2 separate regions of the Homo sapiens genome follow, and region 1 is linked to region 2. A link means that fine-mapping ties the variant in region 2 to the expression of a gene that starts in the linked region. Tissue or cell type: tibial nerve. Region 2 holds a variant in brackets; the other region holds the start of a gene. All regions are shown on one strand. Distances are from middle to middle.

Region 1 (2,912 bases), 570 kb before region 2:
TAGGTGACAGAATGAGGCCAAAACAAACAAACAAACAAACAAACAAAAAAAACACCTGCCCTTTACCCTTTCTCAACCTGACAAATTGACTGACTTGTCTTGAAGGTTTGGCACCACTTCTTGGAAGCTTCCTCTGCTCCCCACCTGGGGTGATGCCCTCTTCTGGAAGGCTCTCACTGCTACACACACAGTGGCTGCCGAAGCTCAGCCTGGCTTTAGTTCCAGCCCTACTAGGTCTTCTCAGGACTCAGGATATCCAGGTGGAAGGAAGGCTGTGCCAGGTACCAACTACCCTACGTGGGATCGCCAAGATAAATCCCTCACATTCAAACTAGTCCCCCAACATCCGTCAACCCTATTCCTAACAGCAAATTGCCACCTTTAGTCCACTCCACAGTGCCCTCTGGAAGGGTCATCAAAAGACAGTTATGACCATACCAAACTATGATTCTTGACACAGAATCAAAAGTTATTTTCAATTTATTTTTTTTCTATTGTAGAACAATAATAATAATATTTAAAATCATATTTTCCTGTGATATAATTAAAACTGTGTTATTTCAATTGAATTTGAAATAGAATTCATGGTCTAAAATAGACTGAATCCCACTGTGAACATATATTTGCATGCCTTCCTCGTCATCATTCAGTTGGTGCAATTGTAAGGCATGCAATAACAAGGGAAGTGAACATTGCAGCACTGTGGCCTGTGGCCACGGTGATGGCGGGACAGCCCCACAGAGGCCACACCAGGTGACTCTCAGCTCGGTGGGTGGGAGGGGGAGTGTCTCTGTGTCCCTCTGGCACACACATCCTCACACAACCTCACATAGTCTTTTTTGCATTTGCTAGGCCATCTCATAACACTTAGGCTCATAAAATTCTGGCTTCCTTTGGATTAACTAAACCCATGGTCCCCCAAGATGGGGATTCCAGGGAGCAGGAGGGAGCCTCGAGGCAGCCCAGACTCCCAGCTGCAAACCTCACTTTCCAGAATACCACTGCCACACCTTGGCATATACCAAATGTTGACAAAGAAGGCTGTTCCCGTACAAGGGCCAATTTTAGAGCAAGCACCCTGTGGTTGGAAAACTGTAAAACCCTCAGCCCCAAAGCTGTGTGTGGCGCTTTGTGCGTGACAGGGCTGGGGCAGATCTCTCTGAGGCACTCAGGAAAACCATTCCCTTTGCTTGTGGTGGGCGGCCCCTGGTGGCTGCTCTGCCCTTGCCAAGTGTTACGTGTCTAAGGTCTGTGGGCATGTTTCTCATTTGCTGCAAAACATCCTCCCCACCCTTGCAGAGAAAGAGTCTTTTGTGCAGCACCCTTTAAAGGGTGACTCGTCCCACTTGTGTTCTCTCTCCTGGTGCAGAGTTGCAAGCAAGTTTATCGGAGTATCGCCATGAAGTTCGTCCCCTGCCTCCTGCTGGTGACCTTGTCCTGCCTGGGGACTTTGGGTCAGGCCCCGAGGCAAAAGCAAGGAAGCACTGGGGAGGAATTCCATTTCCAGACTGGAGGGAGAGATTCCTGCACTATGCGTCCCAGCAGCTTGGGGCAAGGTGCTGGAGAAGTCTGGCTTCGTGTCGACTGCCGCAACACAGACCAGACCTACTGGTGTGAGTACAGGGGGCAGCCCAGCATGTGCCAGGCTTTCGCTGCTGACCCCAAACCTTACTGGAATCAAGCCCTGCAGGAGCTGAGGCGCCTTCACCATGCGTGCCAGGGGGCCCCGGTGCTTAGGCCATCCGTGTGCAGGGAGGCTGGACCCCAGGCCCATATGCAGCAGGTGACTTCCAGCCTCAAGGGCAGCCCAGAGCCCAACCAGCAGCCTGAGGCTGGGACGCCATCTCTGAGGCCCAAGGCCACAGTGAAACTCACAGAAGCAACACAGCTGGGAAAGGACTCGATGGAAGAGCTGGGAAAAGCCAAACCCACCACCCGACCCACAGCCAAACCTACCCAGCCTGGACCCAGGCCCGGAGGGAATGAGGAAGCAAAGAAGAAGGCCTGGGAACATTGTTGGAAACCCTTCCAGGCCCTGTGCGCCTTTCTCATCAGCTTCTTCCGAGGGTGACAGGTGAAAGACCCCTACAGGTAATACCCTTTCCTTTACTCATATACAGAGACTACGTGTATATACTTATATACAGAGACTACGTGAGAGGCACTTAGCACTTTCACAGCTGCTGCGACCACATCAGAGTCTCAGCGTGTGTTTGGGGGTGGGTTTGAGGCTGTCTGTTGCAGAGCAGTGTAGATGAGGTAGTTCATCCGGAGTGGCACTTGACCCTGGAGTTGCATAGGAATCACCTACAAGGAGCTCTAAAAATGCTGATGCCCAGGCCCCTCGCCAGACCGTTCCATCTATGTCTCCAACATAGTAGCGCAGGAATGTGGACTTTTAAAACTCTCCCCCAAGTGATTTGAATGTGCAGCCAAGGTTGAGAATCTCCTTGTGATGGAACCACCTCACTGTTAGACCGAGGCCTTTGGAATTCTGCCGGGTAACGTTTCCTAATGAACCAAGCATTTGCTGCAGCTGTTAGTGGCCGAGGTGCTATGTCATGGTGGAGGTGTCGCCACACCCCGTCTTGTTCTCAGTTTTTTCTCCTACAGTCAAGTTAGGGTGGGGAGTGTTGTGCACTGAGGAAAGTTTGAGTCAAATAGTCTTTAAAGTCTTTCTCACAGCTCTCAAAGCCTTTAATTGTTTTTTGTTCATCACAGAGGAGAAAATCTAATTAATAATAACAGATTTAATCAACTCCAAGTATTGCTTTTAAAAGACCAAACTTTTTCTTGTGGAAATAAGGCTTATTACTGATCTCTATCCTTAAATGTAGCAGCTTTCATTAATTTTGCACACCAGTAAGGAGTTCATTTACATGGGATTCTAGTCTTACTTGTGCACTTTGAGT
Region 2 (2,912 bases):
ATAGGGGCAGGATACTTACCCCTCCCAGCTTCATTTTTCTCATCCGTAAAATGGTGATACTAATATGTGTTTCAAAGGGTTTGATTGTTAGAGACAATATATCTAAGGTGCCCTGTATTTTCTCAGCACAGAGTAGGTCTTACAATTTTCTGCTGTTTTTTCGGTGTCATTTGAACAATGGACCCTCCCTCGGCCCTGCCTTTCTCTATTTTCTCACTATCCCCCAGCTCCCAGCCCATCATGCCTCCTGGTAGAGAATGTCTGAGTTACGAGTCTGAGTATACTGGCCTCTTTTAACTGGGTTGTGGTTGTAACAGCTTTGTTTTCTTAGAGTCTGTGTCTATTTGGCATCCATTCATCACAGGGCCAGTTGTATTAACTATCTTTTCTTGTTTTCTGTGTTCCTGATGCTCTGGCATTTGACTGGGGAGAGACTGCACCTCCCAGGCATAGCCAGTTCTTACAGAAAGCAAGGGGGCTTGCCCAAGAGCACTCTTTTTTTAAATGCAAAAACACCAATCCAGAGTCCACGCCCCCCACCATCTCTTTTATGGAATTCTTACACATGGAGCCAATATTCCCTCTTCCCTAAATCACCCCAGGGCCAGGCACCAGACAACTAGGGACAGTCCCTATGCTCCAAAGCCATCAGACTTATTCCAAGTAGCCAGTCCTAAGCTGTTTATCCTGCCCTGTCTTGCTTTTCCCATGGAAAACACAGTGAAGGCTCTGGCCCAGGCTCTCTCTTCTCTCCCTTCTGCCCCCTGACCAGCCAGGCTCTTTCCCATGTGGCCCTGTGTGGCATGGTGTGCCCCCTCCTCTTGGGAAATATAAGTTATAAAACTTCTCTTTCAATGGCATTAGTCTGTTTGTGTTGTCACTGAATCACCTCCATAAATTAAAATCCCACAGGTACATTTTAAGACAGTCCTACTCAAGTTCTTTTGGGAAACAGTTGAGGTGTTCAAATTGTCTTTAATAATGAGAATCCCCTTGGGTGCCGATATCTATCCTAAGGCACTTGGGGATGCCTTAGGTAAAAAAGTACCAGGGCCAGGCCTTATGGTTCAAGACCTTCTGATACCCACCATCATCTCTCCTGTGATCCCCAAAATGTGAAGAGTAGAGAGTCTAGTTCCATCGGAATCCAACACATGTTTGTAATTTTTGAAAATTATAAAAAATATGTTTGTCGTAAAACCAAAAATGATATAGAATTACACAAAGTAAAATGTGGGAGTCCCCACACACAGATCCCTTCCTTTGAACCCAATTCCTCAAGGATTCCCACTGTTCAAACTTTTGTGTGTGCATTCTTCCACCTTTTTGAGACTCTGCACAAACATGTACACATATGAGGATGAATTTGTTTTTGAAATGGAATCCAAACATACCTATTTTCTGCAACATGCTCTTTTCACTAAAC[A/G]ATATGTGGTGAATACCTTTCTCTGCCTAGCATTCTGCAGTATGAGCTGATTGTAAGTTATCTGGGCATTCCCCTACTGGGCACATTTTGGTTGTCTTGGATTTAGCCACTGTTTCTTGAGAGCTCACTCTCCATGTAGAAGGCTGGCAAAGCCTATACAATCTGCCCTTGGGTTTCACCCCAACTTCAGCTCCTCTTATCATCCCTTGCACCTCTGCCCCAACCACATTTACCTTACGTACTTTCCTCAAGTGTTCCAAACATGCTCCCACTTCAGGGCCTTTGCATGGGACTTTCCTTCAGCCTGGAATGTTTACACTTTAGACCTTCACAGGCTCATTCTCTCACTCATCTCCTTCAGGGTTCTGCTCAAACTTCATGTATCTGTGAGCCTTTCCCTTCCCTGCTATATGAAATAGAGCCCTCCTGCCTTGGCCCTACACACCCCCTCTGCCCTTACTTCCCCCTTAATGCAGTCACTATACGATGTAGGAAATGGTTACTGGTTTCTTATCTGTCTATCCTCATTAGAAAGGAAGGCTTGTGTGGGAACAGAGTTTCTGTCTGGTTCACTGCTGTGTCTCTTGTATCCAGAAAGGGCCCAGCACATAGTAGGCCTCAACAAACATGTGAATGAGTGAGTAGCCCTGTCTTGGTGCTAGTGCTCTCATGGCGTCTAGTTGTCACAACTACCCTGTGGAAGAGGTGGGTTTGCCTTATTTTAAAGTTGAGGAAACAGGCTTAGAGAGGTGAACTCCCTTACCCCAGGTCACACAGCAAGGAAGCTACCTGGATTAGTGATGATCAAATCCATTGGTCCTCAGAATTTCCAGGGAAGCCTGTTAAAGGCAAAGATGCCCAAGCCCTACTTCACATTTCCAGAATAAAGATCTTTGGGTGTTGGGCTCGAGAGTCTGCGTTTTAATGTGATCCCAGATGATTCTGAGAAAGGGCAGGGTTGAGAACCTTTGGCTTCTAGTGTGATTAAGCTTTCCTGGGGGCCTCCTTCTAAGATTTAGCAGCCTGGGGCCTGTAGGTTCTTACCACAGTGGAAGAGTCCTGCAGAATGGCCTGCAGAAGAGTGTGGGACCCACGTTGTTTCCAGCTAGAGGGAAACTAGTCTGTTTTCATGCTGCTGATAAGACATACCTGAAACTGGGTAATTTATAAAGAAAAAGAGGCTTAATGGACTCACATTTCCACATGGCTAGGGAGGCCTCACAATCATGGTGGAAGGCAAAAGGCATGTCTTACATGGCGGCAGACAAGACAGAAAAGAGGGCCAAGCGAAAGAGATTTCCCCTTATAAAACCATCAGATCTCATGAGATTTATTCACTACCATAAGAACAGTATGGGGGGAACCACCCCCATGATTCAGTTATGTCCCACCAGGTCCCTTCCACAACACGTGGAAATTTTGGGAGCTACAATTCAAGATGAGATTTGGGTGGGGACACAGTCAAATTATATCAGAGTGTGTCTCC

What was found. PIP is the estimated chance that this variant, and not a neighbour inherited with it, causes the effect. A credible set is the group of variants that fine-mapping cannot tell apart.
Region 1: FGFBP2 starts here. The variant in region 2 is the best candidate, but not a certain one, in a credible set for the expression of FGFBP2 in tibial nerve (GTEx, PIP 0.63).

The regions. Positions count from the first base shown.
Region 1 is chr4:15,961,617-15,964,528 of GRCh38, reverse strand. It overlaps FGFBP2 (fibroblast growth factor binding protein 2), which reads left to right and starts at 1,354. Exons shown (of 2, transcript NM_031950.4): 1 at 1,354-2,091. The coding sequence starts at 1,400. The coding sequence ends at 2,071. RefSeq lists an enhancer at 483-1,324.
Region 2 is chr4:15,392,944-15,395,855 of GRCh38, reverse strand. The region is part of intron 1 of C1QTNF7-AS1 (C1QTNF7 antisense RNA 1); the gene reads left to right. It also overlaps a transcript of C1QTNF7 not described here. Among named protein-coding and RNA genes, the nearest start is that of C1QTNF7-AS1, 34 kb to the left of the region's middle. The variant A/G (reference allele first, on the strand shown) is at 1,427.